Linked DNA regions of Homo sapiens. The protein of the gene in region 2 interacts with the protein of the main gene of each other region in a pairwise test. Each region holds a gene or a part of one and is shown on either strand. Other genes may lie near its edges.

Region 1 (3,263 bases), on a different chromosome or scaffold from region 2:
GGAAGTAAGAACAGGCACGGCACGCTCTGCTGAAAGTAGACTGCGGCCAGGCTTTTGAAGGCCTTGAAGGATGTGTTAGGGATTTGGAAGCCACTGGAAAGATGAGCAGGGGTGGAGAGTGATTTAGGAATGTTGTTGTCATGCTGCCCAAAGCAAAGTAGATGAAGATTCGAGGTAGAAGCACACTTCTGCACAGGTGGCCCTAAGATGGTGATGGTGGAGTGGAAGGAGCAGATGAGCCAAGAGGACAGGAAATGAGGTCGGTGTAAAGGGCAGGGACAGGCCAGGGGTGCACAGGGATGAGTCTGGATTTGGCTGCCTTGAGGGCTGTCTACAGTAAGCATACTTAAGCGGATGTGCTAGAACTAATGTCATTATTTATTTGCCACAACCTAAAGAGACAGGCAAGTATTAGTCGCCCGTCACAGAGAAGGTCCAGGGTGTCCAGGGCCCACTGTGGAAAGCTCTGCCTGGCTTGCCCCTGCTCCGCCGGCCGTTACCCGCTACCCACTCATACTGTCGTCCAAAAACTGGGCAGTGAAAAGTCACAGGTCAGATACAAATTGGACAGATTTGGTGTGAACATTTACAAGCTCATCCCGTACGCTATGTTTCAGTGGTCACCTAAATATTCTCATTTCAGGACTTTTTAAAACACATTTTCCCAAATCTAACTTGGGACAAAATCTAACTTGGGACATTTAAATAGGTTATCAATAATTATCTGTTTATGGCCTCTTTCGGCACACAAATAAGCATCTCCCTGTACAAAATTCTAGTGTATGCTGAGCTGATTGATTGCCTTCTGCATACACCTTTTCTACAACTTCTCAAACGTGTGTGACATGCTGGTAAGATGGCAGGAAAAGGAGTGACTGAATAATACAATATAGCTGAGATGTGTTTCAAGAAAACCTCTGGGCCAGGGTAGGGGTTTGTGAGCGGGAGCCAAGGACTTGCCCCATGTTTCTAATCAAGGTGAGACCACTGACACATGTGGTCAGCAAATATGTTCTATACACACATCCGCACACTGTCATCTAACCCATCCGTTCTCCCATCCACAGCATCTCCAGGACAAAGCCATCGCAACTAGGGAGGGGTTGACACCTGCTCTCCTAACATGTTTTCTTTCTGTTTCAGGCTTGAAAAACCCTTGCCCAGTTTTGATCCCTTCAAGACTTTGTCACAGCCTCTATCACACATCTGTTTTTCTCGAAGAAAAAAATATAATTAATAAAAATGTTTTACTCTTTTACACTGTATAATTGTAAGAAATAGCGTATTATTTGTGAATGCATGGTCTGAAATTTCTGTACAGTTTGGAGATATTTTCAAACGAAACGTAAGAGAAGTCAACAATAAAACCAAGAAAAGTGAGTATTTTTATACCAAACATTTTAAGTATGCTGGGATGGACGATCTTACACTGGTTTGGATCACAGTTTTTGTTCTTGACTTTTGAATGCTTGTAATTAAAAATATCTATTTTTTTCCTCTGAAGTAAGTTGCATGTTTGAGGCATGTTTCCAAATATTATCAAAATATCCTGAATTGTATTGTGAATATATAGAAATCTGTGCCTGGCCGGAGTCCAGGGTAAATTAGTAGCATGGTGTTAGATGTTAGAAACAGAACTGTTATTTGCAGTGTTAGGTCTAGGATCCCAGTTCTAGTAGGACAGCCCTGCAAGACAATCAACCAGAAGCCTCCAGGAGCTTCTACCTATGGCTTATTCACAACTGGGCAAGAAAACATCATTGGTAAGAACTGCTGAGTGTGCCCTTAGAAAGCCCTAGTAGCTCCAGCTGTGACTATATCAACTGTGTGCCAAGTGTGACTTTGTACAGTTTTATGTTTCCACTCTCCTGTATGTGTAGCCACTCGATGCCTAACCTACCTTCCACAAGCCAGCCCCGCATCCCTGCTCCCGCAGTGTAAGTGCAGAGCCTGCCTCACTGGTAAGGGAAAACCTTGGCTTGGGAGGCCAGCCCTGGCCCTTGAAGGGGTTGGCTGTGCCCAGCCCACCTGGCTGCAGTGGGCAGCTCATGTCTGTATCTCCAAAGTGATGTTTGTTTGCAAAACACCGGCTGAACTGAGCTGGTGTTGCCAACTCTTGGCAGCACTGGGCCAAACCGACCACATACCATGAGCTCCCAAATGGCGTGTGCTCACTGTGAGACGTCCTGCCACACCCCACAGGAGACGGAGGCAGTGGGCATTTGGAACCAATTCTATTCAGACTTCGTCAAAGCCAAAGTCAGTCTGGTGTTGTCAGTTGACACATCTCCAGAGTTCATGACAGCTCAACCTCTCCCCTTGTACAGAAGCCATTTTTGTAAAACCACACTGACCTAAATTCAGCTGCCAAACACAGTCTTTCCTATTGATCCGCTCGGCTTATGTTGAAAATTTCAATGTCATGATTACCTGGTTGGTTTGGGTTTTTGTTTTGTTATTTTCCATTAGAAATATAAAGATGTCAAGAAGCTTTTAAAGGTCAACACAAAAAACCAAGGCCAGGAGTGAGGGGCTCTTTCTTACCGTAAATAAGGGGAAAAGGCAGTTAGCTCAAGGACTTGTGACGGATCCACTTTGGTGTTCAAGGACCTGCTTATGCCCTCAGTGCCAATCGGCTCTTGGTGAGATGACTGTACTCCTAAGGAAAATAGCCACTTCTGCAGTCTATTATGCTTTTATAACTGTTTAAAGGTACTTTTCTATTGTCATTTTTAAAAAATAAAGTGCTTATTCCAGCTGTCACACCATTGCTTGACAAATTCTTTTTTAGCAAGACCAACTACATGTATCCCACACTGCAGACAAGACGCCAGCAGATTTCATTCCCATTGTCAGGCTTCGGCAGAGCTAAGCAAGCATTGGCCATTGAGCTTAGGCACAAAGAGATTAAAGGAGGAAGCAGATACCGGGGAAAGCCAGAGAGTAAGTCTGCAAACGCACAACCACAGTGGCTGGTGACCCACAATGACACCAGAGGCAGAGGGACCTCAAGGGAGGCCCCTCATCTACCTCAGCCTACAAAGCTTGACTCAGGATTATCTGAATTATATTAAAATGTCACTTGGGTTTTCTGCTGACTTAAATATATCTTACGCCAGGCATGGTGGCTCACACCTGTAATCCCAACACTGGGAAACTGAGGCAGGAGGCTTGCTTGATCCCAGGAGTTTGAGACCAGCCTGGACAACACAGCAAGACCCTCAATTTTAACATTAGCCAGGAGTACTAGCACCTGTGGTCCT
Region 2 (7,047 bases):
CTTTCAACTAAGGAAATTGGGTCCTAGAGCATGAGAAGAAATGTTTTAAACCCATCTTCTCTTTTGGGTAGGACAGGGACCTAAACCTGTGGCCACTGCCTCCATCCTAGCTTCCTGGGCCTTACCTGAGCTGCTTGGGAGGGTGCACCTACCAAGGGCAGTCAGTCTGGTGCCCTTCCACCCTCCAACCAGCCTGATACTGGTCCCTCCCTCTCTCTCCAACCCAATACTGAGATGTGCGCACCTGAAAAGAAAGTACTTGAAAAATTCCTCTATTATCAGAGCAAACTGATGAAGCTTCTGAGGTATTAAACAATCCATCATAACATTTGTGACCAGTTAACTTTAATTTTCAAAATAAATCTGCAGTATTTTGCATGTTAGTAATACAGTGCTGGTATTGACAGGTAAAATCATCATCTGCTTACATAGAAACCTTCATTCAGGAGCACACCGTAGGAGGGGAACGGATACACAATAAAAAGCAAACGCAGGCCAAGCAGCGAGCCCTAGAGCGTAACAGGCTGGATGTCAGATTTAAGGATTATCTAATACAACTGTTTAGCTGCCAATCTGATAAAGGGGAAGCTCTCAACCAGGTTACAACCAGAAGGGAAAAACGTACTCTGCCTTTTCGTAGAGCAGTGGCTGTCGTGCCTTCAACACCTGGTTGAATCAGTTCATCAACATCGAAACTCAATTCCAGTTCCAAGACACAGAATTTCATCACACAACCTATTCGGTACCCCTTTTCAGTGGCCCACCCAAAACCCCCTCCTGCCATCGACTCTCTCCCTCCCAAAAGAAGACATGACGTGGCTTTATTATTGCAGACAAGCTTCTTAAGTGAATAAAGAATGCATACAAAATAGTATTTTAACTGAAGTCATACAATGAAGTCTCACTCCTGTTTATTATACAATGAATTGATAAAACAATTACTTCTAGTATATATCTTTTTTTTTTTAGAACTAATACTTTCAGGGTTCTGACAACCACATTCTAGCTTAGGGGTAGGGCCCACACCTGCCCCCACTGAGGACTGCTCCTTGGACCACTGTGGAGGAAGCCTGGGCTGTCTGAATTGTGAATTATGACTGCCAGCCCACCAGAGATAACAGATCCCAGCAGGCAGAGCCAGAACCCAGTTTTGGGTCTGCATGCCAGGAAATGTGAACTTCCTCCAAATGTGGCCACTGTGCCTCCCAATCCAGGCCTCAGCAAGGTCATTCTTGGGCTTTCCCTACACGAGTCCTTCCAGTAGTCCACACATAATGCTCTACATATTAAAAACAAACCATTTTTGTACTGTGGATAAGAACAGTTGTAACAAAGTCATAGCTACATATTTTTCTCTACATTTTGTTTATTGAGACAAACTAATTAAAAGGCACAAACATAGGGCATGTTTACATGGACATTATAACAAACATATACATTAAAAGTGTAGGAATGTGTTGCCTTCCTGCTAAACAGAAAGTTCCTAAGCTTTTATATATACAAAAGTTGTACAATTTAATGTCCTAAAGTACAAAAGATCATTTATAAAATTATTTTACACTAAGTACTATTTATTTTATTTTTTTACTATGTAGTTCAACCCCCTAGAACTGTTTTGTATAATGACACACAGATACCTGTCCCTGATGTAGGAAGTCTGTCTCAGATGCAAGGTATTTTGATGCTTGAACTGACACAGTAGGGTATAAATGGAAATCATCCAGTTTGATAGTCAGTCCTGCAAACATTCTGCAAGATTAACACAACTAATTTCCATTTCTCTTAACTGCAATGATTAAAAAATGAAAAAAACCAAAAACATATTGCAACTTAAAAAATCACAGCATCTTGGTTTAGTTAATTTTTTTTTTAACGCAATGCTTTAAAAACAATGCGTGGCATGATGGTGTAAAGAGTATCTGTTTCCCTAGCTTTTGGTTTCTACTTTATGTACAGAGATAAAATATCTTGCTAAGAAATAAAAAGCACATGTCTCAACGTGCATAATCATTGCTGGGTTTCTACAGGGAATGCAGACAGCTGTCTCCCTGAAAACACCACAAAGCTGATACAAGTGTTTTCTCAAAGAAAAAAAAAGTGATGTCCATATTTACAAAGTTGAACAAATCTGCGCAATACTTAAGAAACGGAAGGAGAAATTTAAAAAAAGATACACTCTGCATGTTCTGAAGGGGCATACACTACCTAGTTAGTGGTTAGAATAAAAACTGTATACAATTTAATATAAGACATAAACTCTAGTGAGCAACTAACACATCTGTCCCTGTTGTAATATCAACAGGCTCTGATTGGGAGAGAGAGGGGCATATCACATCCCAGTGCCTCCAGCGTCTTCCAATTTAAAGCAATATATTTGTACTGTTCCAAAGTACTCCTTGGCTCCTAAATAGGAATCCCACTGGACTCTGTTTATTAGGAGCTTGCCTGTCCACACACTTGACTTCTCCTCTGTCAGTTGAGGCTTTTCTTAGCAAAACACAATTTGTAGATTTTTTTTAAATTTTTTTTTTTTTTAAAAAGTCAACTACAATGCTATATTCCATCGGGATTAATATGCTGAGCAATATTTACATCTCCAAATATCAGGTCACAATCCCTATTATACGTTGAAGTTAGAATGATAAATTATCATATGCTTTGCATATCAGAGCTGGTATCACCTTTCCCATAGGGAATGCTGCCTGAAATTAACATATTCCCAAAGGTAAAATGCATATTCTCTGAAATGCATTTTATTATGACAATGCATGTATTTACTCATAAAAACAATAAACACAGACAATTCTACACTAGCTCTCAATCTGTGGATTTAAAATTTCAGGTTAAAATCAGCCATCCACCTTGTATAGGGAGAAGAGTTCTGCTAGTGTTTACAATAAAGTGATTCCTTGGGATTAGAAATAGTAATGCTGTTTTTTTATTTTGAAGTGGGTTCTACTTATGATTGGTTTTAATTCTGGCATTTCATCTTGCCAACTACTATCCTGTTTAAGCAATGTTGTCAGCTAAAAGGAATTTCTGATTAAACTAAAGTGGTCCAGTGATAAGTTACATACACACCCTACTTTGAATAATCCCAGCCAAATTGGAGAAAAATGCTACCACACTCTTATTAACTAATGTAATAAAATCTCCCAATTTCATGGTTTACTTTTTGCTTTAATCAACTAAAAGTTAAGTTGCTGGTAAATATTTACTTTTACCCATATTTTGATTTTATAATACTGTTTACCAAGGCGGTGATGTAGGCAAAGCTTGGGGCAAGAAAGGCATGCTCTCTACAGGTCTCATTGCTATATTGAGAGGGGCGGCTAATGTCATAGGTGTGGGTAGATTCATTGGAGATGTGATGGTGACAGGGTGTGCTATATTCACTGGGGCAGTGACGGGGGTGGGGAGGTTGACTGGGGTAGTGAGTGTTAAAGGAGAGGTCATGGATAATGGACTGGTTATAGTTACAGGATGCCCTATGTTCATTGGGCTGGTTATGTTAACTGCACTTGAAACATTTACTGGACTTCTCATGCTCATTGCAGCTGCCACTGTGACTGGGTTTGACATAGTCCCAGACGACACAGAGGATGTTATACTGAATGGAGTAGTGAGAGTCACAGGTGTCGTAGCAGCCGTGGAGGTTTGGCACAGGTTAGCAGCTTCTAAAATAAGAAGAAAAAGGGTCTTTAGATTCTCAAAACAGTGAGCAAAATTCACAAAGTTTCTGAATCAATTTCTTTTCATTAAAAATGTCAAACATTTAATAAATCAAATTCCAGTTTTCTATCAAGCGGTCAACAGAACAGAGGATCTTTCTGAGCACAAGCCTGGGGGCCAGGGATCCCAGTGTATGAATCACCTTCTGATGCTATACCTCCTGCAAGGACTTAAGCAACTTGTTTAGCCTTGCACTTTAGGTTTCAAGTTCAGATTTACTTACCTACCTCACAGTGATGCTGAGAGGATCAGTTAACTTCTGCAATGCAGGGCTAAGTGTTCTCACTACTACTTCATGCAGTTCCTCTGAGTTCTAAAAACTTTCTTGGGAAGAGCCAACCTCCAGCAGGCCAGGCTAAAGAGCTTGTTTACACAGAGCTGGGCCAATGGTTACACAATAACAGATAATCAGAAAAATCTTCTCGTAAGGCACACTGTAACTAGCAGAGAGAGGTGTGCATACTCAATAAGTATGTTAAAGCCTGAGACATGAAGCCACATTCTGTGAAGGTTTTAAAAATGCATAATTGGGGAATGATAAACAAGCTATTTTAGTATCATGTTTGTTTCAGTTTTAGAAATATGTTTCAGTTAAATAATCTTATTCTTTCTGGTTATGTTTCTTAACTACATTAGGAAAGAAAAAAATACTCCTCAATAAGTTCATGTTCTCCTCACTCCCATTTCTTCTTGTTTCTGATGTTGACACAATCACCTATTTTATGCCTAGTATCTTTAACTCTACATATTACACATACCACCAAGCATACCAAAGAGAACTAGCTAGGCAAGGAGACCCTGCAGTGAGTTAGAGGACCCTGGTCCTTCTTATCCAACAAAACCTGGACACTTTTTTTTCTGAGACAGGGTCTCCTTCTGTTGCTCAGGCTGGAGTGCAGTAGCATGATCAAAGCTTACTGCAGCCTCAAACCCTCAAGGCTCAAGCAATCCTCCCACTTTAGTCTACCAAGTAGCTGGGACTACAGGTGCATGCCATCACGCCCAGCTAATTTTTGTGTTTTTTGTAGAGACTGGGTTTCGCCACGTTGCCCAGGCTGGTCTCCTCCTAGGCTCAAGCGATCCGTCCACCTCAGCCTCCCAAAGTGCTGGGATTAAGGTGTGAGCCAGGTCTAGACACTTCTTAAAAAATACTTCCCCTCAAGGTGACATCCCCAACCCACCCCTCAACAAAATTCAGCACCAGAAAACAGCAGTAAAATGATGGGTAGGCTAGCTGTGACTTGGCTATCAAAATGGAGAAATATACTTGAACTAAAGATAGAGATCTGTATATGATCCACAAAGGTCTTATCACCGCAGGGGGACCCTTGAGTCAAGCAGCCCTTACTTGATCAATACAATGTAACTTTGGCACACACCATTCTCCCTATCAGGGATTCCCAAATCTGGCTGATTATCAAAATCAACTATCTAGAGGACTTCAAAACAAACAAACAAACAAACAAAAAAAACCCAACAAAACAAAAACAAAGGACTCCAGGAGAATCAATAGTGAAATTTAGATGGAACTTGGGAAATGTGTATTTTTAAAAAGCTTCCCAGACAATATGATTGTCGATCAGGTTTGAAAACTTATGTTACCTTATTTAGGCCTAATATTTAAAGGACGTTATAGATTCAAGCTTAGATTTTCAGGTCAGGAGTCTCCTCTCCTCTAAAATGTGACATTTACTAACATGAATACAGAGGTTTCTAAGATCAGTGGTCTTTTTGAGAGAGATTCACGCTACAAATGGGAATACAATAACATTTTGTTTCATGGAAGTCAGAAGATGAGCTAAACAACCAAGTCTTATTGTGCAAGCAAATTGAAATACAATACCAAATAGAGGAGTACACCGAGAGAGATTGAGAGAGAAAACCAATTCACTTTAAGGTGCTGGGAGTATTGCTGAGGATATTCTCCACCTGCTTTCACCAAAGAATTTTTACTCTCTTATCTGCTGACCCCCTTACCTCCTCCTCCGTGTTTTCTTTTTAATCTAAGAGTGTCCTTTTACTATGACTTAAACATTTTTACTCCTTCTCTAAGTAAAATACCCTTCATAATATACTTTCAACCCACTATACAATTATCACAGCACTACACTTTTTCCTCCCCATTGCCCGTCCCCTCTCCCCATTCTAACACAAAAGTTCATTTGTTTTGTTTTTTTTGAGATGGGGGTCTCAATCTGTTGTCCAGGCTGGAGTGCAGTGATGCAATTGTAGCTCACTGCAGCCTCAAACTCCTGGGTTCAAGTGACCCTCCCACCTTAGCTTCCTGAGTAGCGGGGACTACAGACACGCACTGTCACGTCCGGCTAATTTTTTGTTGTTGTTGTTGTTTTTGTAGAGATGGGGTCTTGCCATCTTGCCCAGGCTGGTCTCAAACTCCTGGCCTCAAGTGATCCTCCCACCTTGGCCTCCTGAAGTGCTGGAATTATAGGTGTGAGCCATCACACCTGGCCAAAACATTTTATTAAAATAATGACAAATCTTCAGATGGAAGCTAGGAACAAGCAGCACCTGAGGAATGATGAAAAGCCTATACGGACTGCTGCATTCTTTTCTTCCAATGCCAGTAAATGTATGAAAAAGAATGTCGCCAGGGCCCAGTAGCTCACGCCTATAATCCCAGTACTTTGGGAGGGTGAGGCGGGCAGATCACCTGAGGTCGGGAATTCGAGACCAGCCTGACCAACATGGAGAAACCCTGTCTCTACTAAAAATACAAAATTAGCTGGGCGCGGTGGCACATGCCTGTAATCCCAGCTACTCAGGAGGCTGAGGCAGGAGAATCGCTTGAACCTGGGAGGCGGAGGTTGTGGTGAGACAAGATCATGCCATTGCACTCCAGCCTGGGCAACAAGAGCAAAACTCCATCTCAAAAAAAGAAAAAAAAAAAAAAAGAATGCTATTCCTTTTATTTTTATCCAAGTATAGGAGGTTTAGAGATCACTCTGGCCAGGTGTGGTGACTCATGCCTGTAATCCCAGAACTTTAGGAGTCTGAGGCGGGTGGATCACTTGAGATCAGGAGTTCAAGACTAGCCTGGCCAACATGGCAAAACCCTGTCTCTAGTAAAAATACAAAAATTAGTCGGGTGTGGTGGCACACACCTGTCGTCCTGGCTACCCGGGAGGCTGAGGCACAAGAATCACTTGAACCCAGGAGGCGGAGGCTGCAGTGAGCCGAGATCACGCCACTGCACTCAAGCCTGAGCAACAGAGCGAGAGACTCTGTCTAAAAAAGAAAAAAAAAAAACAGAAGGGATCACTCTGAGGAAGGGAAGAGCCACACTACATGAAAGCA
Region 3 (5,146 bases), on a different chromosome or scaffold from region 2:
AGGGAGGATCGCTTGAGCCCAGGAGTTTGAGACCAGCCTGGACAACATGGTGAAACCCCATCTCTACAAAAAATAAAAAAAAAATGAGTGGGACATGTTGGCACATGCCTGTTAGTCCCAGCTACTCAGGAGGCTGAGGTGGGATAATCACTGAGCCAGGAAAGTTGAGGTTGTAGTGAGCTGTGATTGTGCCACTGCACTCCAGCGTGGGTGATGGAGCAAGACCCTGTTTCCGAAAAAAAAAAAGAAAAAAAAGATATACTTAAAATTTATTCTAAGATGAAGTCTTCAAAATCAGGTGTATATATCATGCTTACAACACATTATATAATTTATGGCTCCTGCCTAGCAGGGGTCATCACTGTTAGTTCAACTTTTCTTTGGCAAGTCTACTCCCTGTGCCCCACCGTACACTGCTACATTATTGTTTGTATATGTGTGTGTGAGACTGCATTTAGGCAACTGTAATAGGTTGAATTTGGTTATTTAATCTCTGTCCAAAATCACATCACAAAGATGCCTTGATTATAGAAAGATCCTTCCTTGCAGCATATTAGTTATTTGACACCCTCAGTGGATATAAGTGAATATTTTGAGGGAAGAATAGAAAAGATACAATTTTTATTTATTTATTTATTTATTTATTTACTGAGACAAGTTGCTGCTCTGTCGCCCAGGCTGGAGTGCAGTGACATGATCTTGGCTCACTACAACCTCTGCCTCCCGGTTCAAGTGATTCTTCTGCTTCAGTCTCCCTGAGTAGCTGGGGTTACAGGCATGCACCACCACACCTGGCTAATTTTAGTATTAATAATTTATTTTTAAATGGAATAATAATTTCACTTTCTTCTTACCAGATCTTTCTGTCTGGGTTGTTTGCTTTTATGAGTTTTTTTGTTTGAATCTCCCTTTTACATTAAACAAAAATTAACATTTTATTATGGGAAATTTCACTATGCTATTAGAAAAGCATAGTGAACCCCCAGGCATCATCAGTGATATTCGGTGTATAGCAGTTCACGGACAGTTTTGTTTCATCTATACCAACACCTATTGCTTATCCTCCTTCTGTGTCCCCCAGTTACTTTGAATTAAATCTTATACATATACAGATGAATATTATCACTTCATCTGTATCAGAATGTTATTTTTATTAAGAAAATTATTTTTGAGATAGGGCCTTGCTGTAGTGCCCAGGCTGGAGTGTAGTAGCATGATATAACTCCCTGCAGCCTCGAACTCCTGGGCTCAAGTGATCCTCCCACCTCAGCCTCCTAAGTAACTGGGACTACAGGTGTGTGCCACCACACCTGGTAACAGATGGTTTTAAAAACTACAATACATTATCACACTTAAAAAAATTATCTTATCTAAAATAACTATTCAGATTTTCCCAGTTATTTCATAAGTGATTTTTTTTTTTTTTTTTTTGAGACACAGTTTCACTCTTGTTGCCTCCAGGCTGGAGTGCAATGGCCCGATCTTGGCACACTCCAACATCTGCCTCCCGGGTTCAAGCAATTCTCCTGCCTCAGTCTCCTGAGTAGCTGGGATTATAGACACCCACCACCACGCCCAGCTAATTTTTGTATTTTTAGTAGAGACAGGATTTCACCATGTTGGCCAGGCTGGTCTCAAACTCCTGACCTCAGGTGATCTACCCGCCTCAGCCTCCCAAAATGCTGGGATTACAGGCATGAGCCACTGTGCCTGGCCTTCATAAATGATTTTTATGGTTCAAATCAGGATCCATATAAAGTCCATATATGTGTCTTTTTTTAGTCTATAGATTTCCCTTCCATCTCCTCTGCAATTTATTTTTGGAAGAAACTGAGTTATTGAGTCATTTGTCATCTAGAATGATGTACAGTTTAGATTTTGCTGACTGCATTCCATGGTGTGGCCAAACTTCCTCTGTCTGGTGTATTTCTCATAAGTGTGTAATTAGATGGAAAGGCTTGGTCAGATTTAAATTAGTTTTTTTTTTTCTACAGGGATATTTGAGAGGTAGTGGTATGTATTTCCATCAGGAAGCACATAATGTCTTCTTGGCTCTCTTTGTGATGTTAGTAGCCATCAATTTCAGTGCCTAGATACATTAATTAGATTTCTGTATCTCCTACTATCTCAAAATTTTCCATCTTCTGTCTGTGCTACATTCTGAGTCCTTTCTTCAGTTATAAATTCTAATTCATTGTATAATTCTTGTTAATCTGTTGACTTTCTAAAACTGGCTTTTCATATCTAAAAAAATTTCCTTTTTTCAAGTCTGTTCATTCCTCATAGTTCTTACTAATTGGTCATTTTTACATCCTTTTTTTTTTTTTTTTTTTTTGAGACGGAGTCTTGCTCTGTCATCCAGGCTGGAGTGCAGTGGCATGATCTCTGCTCACTGCAACCTCCGCCTCCCAAGTTCAAGTGATTCTCTTGCCTCAGTCTCCCGAGTAGCTGGGATTATAGGCATCCACCATCATGCCCAGCTAATTTTTGTATTTTTAGTAGAGATGGGGTTTCATCATGTTGGCCAGGCTGGTCTTGAACTCCTGACCTCAGGTGATCTGCCCACCTCAGCCTCCCAAAGTGCTGGGATTACAGGCGTGAGCCACTGTGCCCGGCCTATCCTTAACTTTAGACATTGCACACAGTACAACTGCTATCCGTATCGGATAGTTCTTAAGGTCAGCAGCTATTGCTTATTGTGTCTGCTGACTCTCTTGGTAGCTGCCCTTCTTTTGTGTCTAGTGATCTTTGAGTTCATTGTTTGATCTTAACCAGGGGAACTGTATGGGCCAAAATTAGGATTGAGGATATTTTTCTCCATAGAGGATTTTCCTTAACTTTTGCAGCAGCTGAAAGATGCCATTCAGATGGATCTACATTAGTCATGATGCCAGAATTGGGCAAATCTGCTGACACCAGGACACCTGTGTATATGTGTTTGTGTCTTTCCAGGAATTCATTGAAGAGTTGCTGTCTCCCCCTTTTGGGGGTTTAGTGGCATTTGTGAAGGAGGCTGAGGCTTTGATTGAGCGTGGACAGGCTGAGCGACTTCGAGGGGAAGAAGGTATGAGGAAAATATGGTAATGATGGGATCAGTGGTAAGGGAAGTGGAAAAGAAAAATGAAAGGATGCAGATTACATGGTGGGGGAATAGAGTATGAAAGACTGGATTGAGAGAATACCAGAAAAGAGGGTTTGATGATAAGGATGGCTATACCTTGGGGAGAACTTAGTGGAGTTGAAGATCAGCCAGATCCCTCTCTGACACTGTTTCCTCCTGCTATTAGCCCGGGTAACTCAGCTGATCCGTGGCTTTGGTAGTTCCTGGAAATCATCAGTGGAATCTCTGAGTCAGGATGTAATGCGGAGTTTCACCAACTTCAGAAATGGCACCAGTATCATTCAGGTGACCTGCAAGTCCCAGGCCCCACTCAGATCCCCCATCATTAATTATTTTCCCCATCTTTTTGCTGGGCTCAGCATCATCTAAGTGACCCTTGGTCTTCAGTTACTAGCTGTGCCCAAAGTTCTGTATGAGCCCTAACCTGATTCTTTTTTTTTTGTTTGTTTTGTTTTTTTTTTGAGACAGAGTCTAGCTCTGTTGTCCAGGCTGGAGTGCAGTGGCACAGTCTCGGCTCACTGCAACCTCTGCCTCCCAGGTTCAAGTGATTTTCCTGCCTCAGCCTCCCAAGTAGCTGGGATTACAGGTGCCTGCCACCACAACCAGCTAATTTTCGTATTTGTAGTAGAGATGGGGTTTCACTGTGTTGGCCAGGCTGGTCTCGAATTCCTGACCTCGTGATCTGCCCGCCATGGCCTCCCACAGTGCTGGGATTACAAGTGTGAGCCACTGCGCCTGGCCGCCTAACCTGATTCTTAATCATCACTATTAGCACCATTTTACGGTTTGATCCCTCAATGACTTTCTTTGACCAGGGAGCGCTGACCCAGCTGATCCAGCTCTATCATCGCTTCCACCGGGTGCTGTCCCAGCCGCAGCTCCGAGCCCTCCCTGCCCGGGCTGAGCTCATCAACATTCACCACCTTATGGTGGAGCTCAAGAAGCATAAGCCCAACTTCTGATGTGCCAGAAACCGCCCTGAGATCTGCCGGTCATCTCCATGGACTTCTGCACCCCATTCCATACCCTTCTTCACCTGGGGTACCCCTTCCAGTTTTCCCCTTGCTTCCCAGGCCCTTGACATGGCTTACCTGCCTTCACTCCCAGCACCTTGCCCAACAGGATAAGCTGGATCCCCTTGGCCTTCTGAATATCCCAGTGTCTTCAGGTTTCCCAAGACCACTTCCCTGTGGGCTTCCAAAATGGCCTTTATCATTTCTCCAGTCTGTCACCCTCCTTTCCTGCTCCCATACACCCAAGGCTTGTTTCTTCCCCTGTAAAAACCACTGCCTCAATCTCTGGTTCACTCAACTAGTCACCATGTCCTGAGGCATGAAGCCTCCTCAGCTCTTGGAATTGCTGGCAAGGGGTGACTGCCTCTGAGTCATTGTGTTTTTCAAAGTGATTTCTTTTCTGTAGCTTTTTGACCTAAGATCTCAGCAATTTGAACACTAACCTCTCCCCTCCTGGCTCAAGAATTACTCCGAAGTCAGTCTGCAGAAAATAAATATTTAGTATGACATGACACTTATCCCATTTCCTTTCTCCTTCCTCCTGAAGGTTTTTCAGGTGGCCCCATCTCTAGAATGACCTTTCCTTTCTGACTACTTCCTGGGCTTACATCCCTTCTGGTGGGTGTAACCTCTAACCTCTAGCTACTCCCAGGCCATTGGAGGAAGGTGGCCCCTGGCTAAAATAGCAGATGCTGCAAGGGATGAGAACCAGGCCGCGCAGCCCCAGACACTGTCCCAAGGGCTCCCTTGGGACAAGCCCAAGCTGACTCTGGAATCCCTCCTCCGTAGCAGCTCCATAGCTCCTCTGGTTGTGGCTGTGACAGCCCCTTGCTCGGGGGCTGCAGCACCCAACCCACACCCACACCGTTGGGGCAGGGCTAGACCAGGCGAAATTCGTACCATCCGTTTGTTTGACTTGGAGCCTTCCTGCTGTCCTCGCCTATACGCCTCGTTTGAACTTAGGCTCTAGACTGGAGAGACACGGGGACCCCTTTAAGGCCTAAGAAGAGAG
Region 4 (5,573 bases), on a different chromosome or scaffold from region 2:
TGGTGGCTCACATCTTTCCACTTTCTTCCCTCCTCAGCTGTCATTAAGGCTCTGCCTTAGTGTCCAAGGACAAGGTGCTAGTGGGCAGCCTGTGTCACCTGCACTCACTGCTCCCCAACCTCCCAAGCCAGGATAGGGGGTGAGAAAGCCAAGGTCTGGAGCTTGGGATTGGTGGGCACTTTCTCACATGCTGTCCCTTATGAGTCGCCCAAGCCTCCAGGGACACAGACTCTCAGACAGGGCCCTGAAGGGGTCAATGCATCCATTCCTCAACCCCAAGCAGCATTCTGTGCAAGGAAACGGATGAAAGGCTTTTCTAGTCCCTGAAATCCTGAGAGATCATTTCACGTTGGGGTCCACTAAGACCTCAGACATTCTACTGGATTTGTCCTTCCTCCATCACCTTTTCTCCCCAAGAGAGCTCTATGAGGGGGAGGAGAATAGCCAGCAAATGGTGGGGGGGGGGGGGTCAAACAAGTTCCTGTACTCTTTATCCAGCACATTCACATTATTTTTAAACAAAAAAATTTTTTTTAATTTTTTCTTTGGGTTTGTACAAGAAATTTACAGTGTGAAAAATATACAAGTGAAAACGAGGCCATAAACCTGGGTGAAGGGAGAGGCTGCTTGGTCACAAACACAAATAAACAAGACATTTCTGAGTTCTTCCTTTGGTCTGACTTCAGCCCCCTCACTCCAGGAGAGAGGCTGCAGAGCTCAAACCTGGGAACCGAGCCCAGGCCCGGCCCTGTCCCCCAATGTGGGCAGGCACATCCGGAGCAGCTGGTGCCATCTGGCTTTCTCTGGCTTTGGGGTCGGGGGGAATGTGAAGAGGAGGGAGCCCCTTCTTCTTCCCTGCTCCCCTGGCTGGAGTGGGCTGGAAGCGCCTGTGAACAGGGTTGGCAGTGGCACTGGCAGCGGTGGGGAATGAAGTGGGTAGTAACAAGAGCCTCTGGGTAACAGTGAACACGGGGACCTTTGAGCGGTCTGATCTTGCTCCTCCAAGTCATAGGGCCACCCTGAGTTCTTGGCAGAAGCCCAGAGGCCTGGATCCTAGGAGACAAGTGGCTTTGGGGCCCTCAGCCTTTGGGGCCATCCGTGGACCCTGGGGCCTAAGTGGATCTGCAGCTGCTGCCCCTCTGGCAGAGCTCCCTACAGAGCTGGTTGCTGAGGGCCCTAGATCTCAGTAGCAGTGATCTCCTCCAGGCAGATGCAGGGGGCCTGCTCGGCCAGGCCCAGGTCAGCGAGCTCCCGGGCCTCCAGCTCCAGGCTGAGCTGCTGCAGCTCCTGCTCTAGCTGCCGGTTGCGCCGGTACATCTGGATGTAGTTGTGCTGCAGCTGCTTCTGGTAGCGGATCACCTGCTCCTTCTCTGCCTGCCAGGCCAGCCGCTCCCCCTCAAAGCTGTCCCGCTGCTCCTCACCCCGCCGCCGCTCCCGCTGCAGCTCCACCCGCAATCGCTCCACCTGGGCCCGCAAGCTGCCCCCAACCCCGGCTGCTGCCCGCTGCACTTTGGCCTCATCACTCTCTGCCAGGAGGAATGGGTCAGCGGTGGCAGGTGGCACAGGGGGCTCCCGGAGTCCGGCCGCCTCAGCATCCAACTGCCCAGCTTTCTCCCGCAGCTGCTCAGCTTCCTGGCGGTGTCGCTGCAGCTCCTGGGAACAGGCTTCCAGCTCCAGCTCCCGAGCTCGGGCGGCCTCCTGTAGACCCCGCGCACGGCCCTCACTGACCCGCAGCGTAGCACGGGCCTCCCGCAGCGCCACCCGCAGAGCCACCAGCTCGCTGCCCTTCTGCACCAGCTCTGCCTGAGACTCTTTCAGCTGCTGCTTCAGCAGGGAGATCTCGCCTGATTTCTGGCACACCTGGGGGTGGGAGGAAGTGGGGAAGGATGGTGAGACAGGTTCTCCTGGGGGGACAGGCCCTGCACATCATGCTGGGCATTTGGGAGAGAAGAGTCCATCTTTATCCCCATTTTACAGATGGAGACACTAAAGCAAGTCTAGTGACATGTCCAAGGTCATACAGTTAAGATGGGGCTTAAGTGGAAAGCAGACCTAGAACTTTTTGCTTCAAAGCTGGTGTCTTCAAAGCATCACAAGACACTGCAAGTACCACCAAGCCCTGGGGACTGGGGACTGGGGACTGGGTCCTGGCAAGTGCTGCAGGAGTGGGGACAATGGAGGGCAGTGCCCAGGTGCCTGCTGGAGAGGTACTACAGTGACCTAGTTAAGAGCTCAGATATTGGAGCCAGACTGCCTGGGTTCAGATTTGGGGCTTCAGCCTTTATGGGCCTCAGTTTACTCATCTCTAAAATGGGGAGACTAATGGTAGCCCCCTCAGTGTTGTTATAAGGATGAAATGATCTGTTCCATGTAACATGCTTAGAATAGTGCCTCCACACCACAAGCACCACATTCTTACTACTGGCTGGAAGCGTGGCTACGTGCCACTAGACAAGGCCAACAAGGAGACCCCCCTCCCAGAAAGGGACAGAGGGGAACCTCATCTCACGGAGGTGAGAAAGGGGAGGACCTCTGGGGGTGGCAGGCTGAGGGAGGGTGGGGCTGGGCCCCTTTTTCCAGGGTTTCTCCCTGTGTGACCCTGCTCCCTGCCCCTCCTGGTCTGGCCCACCTCCCACTTGGTCTCCTCAAGCCTCGGCCCGAGCTCCCGCTGCTCCCGCTCCAAGGTGGCGCAGCGCCGCTCCAGCTGTTCGCGCTCCTGCAGCAGCTGTGCGAAGTCGTCCTGCAATTGCCGCTTCTCCTGCTGCAGCTGGAACACCTGCAGCTGCAGCAGCTGTTGGGCCCGCTGTGCCCGCTGTGCCTGGGCCGCACAGTCCTCTCGCAGGGCCTCACGCTCTCGCTGCCAGTGCCGCTGCCGCTCCTCGTATGCCTGCAGGCGAGAAGAGAGACCTGGCTCCTGGGCAGTTTTCCCAACTCCCCACTCAGTGTCTGCTCTGGCAGCCCACTTCCGAGGGCTCAGGAAGGGTGGATTCCATTAAACAACAATAGTAATTGCAACAACAATACTAACTGCTTTTATGATGATCATAGAAACAAACACAAGAGCAAGCAGACCGGGCTCGGTGGCTCACGCGAGGTGGGTGGATCACTTAAGCTCCGGAGTTCGAGACCAGCCTAGGCAACACAGCAAAACCCTGCCTCTCCAAAGACCAAAAATTAGCTTGGTGTGGTGGCATGCGCCTGTAGTCTCAGCTACTTGGGAGGCTGGGGTGAGAGGACTGCTTGAGCCCAGGGGGTTGAGGCTACAGGGAGCTGAAATCACGCCACTGCTCTCTAGCCTGGGTGACAGAATGAGACCTTGTCTCAAAAAATAAAAAAAGCAAGCACTTGGCCGGGTGCAGTGGCTCACGCCTGTAATCCCAGCACTTTGGGAGGCCGAGGCAGGTGAATCACTTGAGGCCAGGGGTTCGCGACCAGCTTGGCCAACATGGTGGAAACCCTGTCTCTACTAAAAATAAAAAATAATAAAAAATTTTAAAAAAGGCAAGCATTTATATAGCACTTCCTAGGTACCAGGCATTAGTCTAATCACTTTACACCTTTTGCCTTATTTAATCCTCATAATAATCCTACGAAGCTAGAAATATCCCTATATAGATGAAGAAATAAAGGCTGAGTAAAGTTAAGCAACTTGCTCAAGCCCAAAAACTAGTATTTGGCAGTGGGAGGTTTGAATCCATGCACTCTGACTCCTTTCCACCCCACAAGTTTTGTTTTTTGTTTTGAGATAGAGTCTTGCTCTGTCGCCCAGGCTGGAGTGCAATGGTGGAATGTCAGTCCATTGTAACCTCCTCCTCCTGGGCTCCAGTGATCCGCCCACCTCAGCCTCCCAAGTAGCTGGGACTACAGGTACATGCCACCACACTTAGCTAATTTATTTTTAGTAGAAATGGGGTTTCCCCATGTTACCCAGGTTGGTCTCAAACTCCCGAGCTCAAGCAATCCGCCCACCTCGGCCTCCCAAAGTGCTGGGATTACAGATGTGAGCCACCACACCTGGCTACTCCACACATTAAACCAGACAACTGGTGGGGAGGGCAGGGGGGTCACAACTACAACTACCCAACCCCCGTTCCCTGCCAAAATGGAAATGCCGCTTGCATCCCAGGGCCTTGGGATGTCCTGCCATGCCCCTTCCCCATCATTGCCTCTGACCACACCTGGCACATGGTAGCCTCATTCTCGTCCAGACTGTCCCGCAGCTGCTGAAGCTCTGCCTCCCGGTCTCGGAGCTTTCCTTCCAGGACACAGTGCAGCAGGGCCTCATCCGAAGGAGGTGGAGGCGGGGGTGGTGGTGAGCGCTCCCCACAGGAGCTGCTGTCAGGGGAGGCCCGAGTACCACTGCCCAAAAGCCCCCCAGCCACACGGCCCCCTAGGGAGCCTGTGCTCTTGCTGGAGGAGGACCGGCCACTGTCTGAGTGGGAGGGCCCAGTAGGGACCCCTCGGGCTGGCCCAGGCAGTGCCCCTCGCCCAGAGCCATGGGAAGGCAGGTGCCCGCCTGGGGAGCTGGTGGTTGGCTCGGCACCTCCGGTGCTGTAGGTGGGCAGGCTGGACAGTGAGTTTCGGCCAGAGTCGGATAGCGTCCCTGATGGGCAGCCACTGGCCCAGCCACTAAATGCCAGGGGTTTGTCAGCAGCTGAAGAGGAGGAGGAAGAGGAGGAGGAGGAGGCAGGGCCCCCAAACAGCTGCGTCAGGCTGCCCTGGCTCCCAGACAGCCCGGTGGCCCGAGGACCCATGAAGCTAGGCAGGGACGGAGCCCCTCGAGGTTTGGGCAGCACTGGCTTGAAGGCTGTTGGGCGGATCAGGATCTTCTCCATGTTCTGAAATGAGGTGCCATGTGACACTGGAGATGAGCTGCCCAATCTTGCAGAGCCCTTATGACACTCCCTGCCCTCCCGTCTTGGGTCCCCAGTGCCCATATATTCATAACAATTGCGGCCACTGGTGGAGGTGGCCACCAGTGTCAGCTTTGTGTCAAGCAATTTGAAAAGTTTATCTCCATTATCTAAATATGATCACTATCCCCATATTACAGATGAGGAAATGGAGGCTCAGCAAGGTTAAAGGCCTTGCCCAAAGTCAAACGTATAACTGGTGCAGAATAACCAGAACGTAAGCAACTAGCACTTACTGCGTACATGCTACGTGCTAGGCACTATGCTATACATTATTTGACCTTCATGTCAGTTCTAGAAACTGAGGCTCAGGTTAAGTGACTTCCCTGAGGTCACACATCCAGAATGAGAGAGAGCTGGGATTAGGACCCAGGTCTGGTGAATCTGGAGCCCACACTCTTTCCTCTATATAAGCTTCTAAATTCCAGTTTCCCAAGCGAGGACTCCCGTTCTACCCAGGCCCACAAGGAAGAGCCGGTCCTCACCTTCTCCAGCTTTCCAGAGACAGGGATGAGCTTTGGTGGTGGGCCGCGGAGGTGGGCATTGTGTGCCCGCTGCTCTCGGGCATCCTCAACATCACTGCTTGGGCTGGGGGGTGACTCTGTCCGGAAGTCCTCATTGATGTAGGTGAAGCTGGTGACAGGGACAGCCTTCCTAGGG

What was found.
Region 1: the proteins of VEZF1 (region 2) and RBPMS interact in binary tests that used the Homo sapiens proteins (3 or more experiments, as listed by UniProt).
Region 3: the proteins of VEZF1 (region 2) and VPS52 interact in binary tests that used the Homo sapiens proteins (3 or more experiments, as listed by UniProt).
Region 4: the proteins of VEZF1 (region 2) and LZTS2 interact in binary tests that used the Homo sapiens proteins (3 or more experiments, as listed by UniProt).

Annotation. Positions count from the first base shown.
Region 1 is NC_000008.11:30,569,494-30,572,756, forward strand, and holds the end of RBPMS (RNA-binding protein with multiple splicing), read left to right. Parts: intron 1-1,143; coding exon of another isoform or gene 1,144-1,237; 3' UTR 1,238-2,763; downstream 2,764-3,263.
Region 2 is NC_000017.11:57,971,224-57,978,270, forward strand, and holds the end of VEZF1 (vascular endothelial zinc finger 1), read right to left. Parts: intron 3,678-7,047; coding exon 3,250-3,677; 3' UTR 329-3,249; downstream 1-328. UniProt on the Homo sapiens protein: Possible transcription factor. Specifically binds to the CT/GC-rich region of the interleukin-3 promoter and mediates tax transactivation of IL-3.
Region 3 is NC_000006.12:33,249,778-33,254,923, reverse strand, and holds the end of VPS52 (vacuolar protein sorting-associated protein 52 homolog), read left to right. Parts: intron 1-33; exon of another isoform or gene 34-226; intron 227-2,952; coding exon 2,953-3,064; intron 3,065-3,217; exon of another isoform or gene 3,218-3,287; coding exon 3,288-3,406; exon of another isoform or gene 3,407-3,411; intron 3,412-3,936; coding exon 3,937-4,083; 3' UTR 4,084-4,646; downstream 4,647-5,146. UniProt on the Homo sapiens protein: Acts as a component of the GARP complex that is involved in retrograde transport from early and late endosomes to the trans-Golgi network (TGN).
Region 4 is NC_000010.11:101,002,772-101,008,344, reverse strand, and holds the end of LZTS2 (leucine zipper putative tumor suppressor 2), read right to left. Parts: coding exon 5,399-5,573; intron 4,839-5,398; coding exon 4,179-4,838; coding exon of another isoform or gene 4,077-4,178; exon of another isoform or gene 3,869-4,076; intron 2,888-3,868; coding exon 2,630-2,887; intron 1,861-2,629; coding exon 1,177-1,860; 3' UTR 512-1,176; downstream 1-511. UniProt on the Homo sapiens protein: Negative regulator of katanin-mediated microtubule severing and release from the centrosome. Required for central spindle formation and the completion of cytokinesis.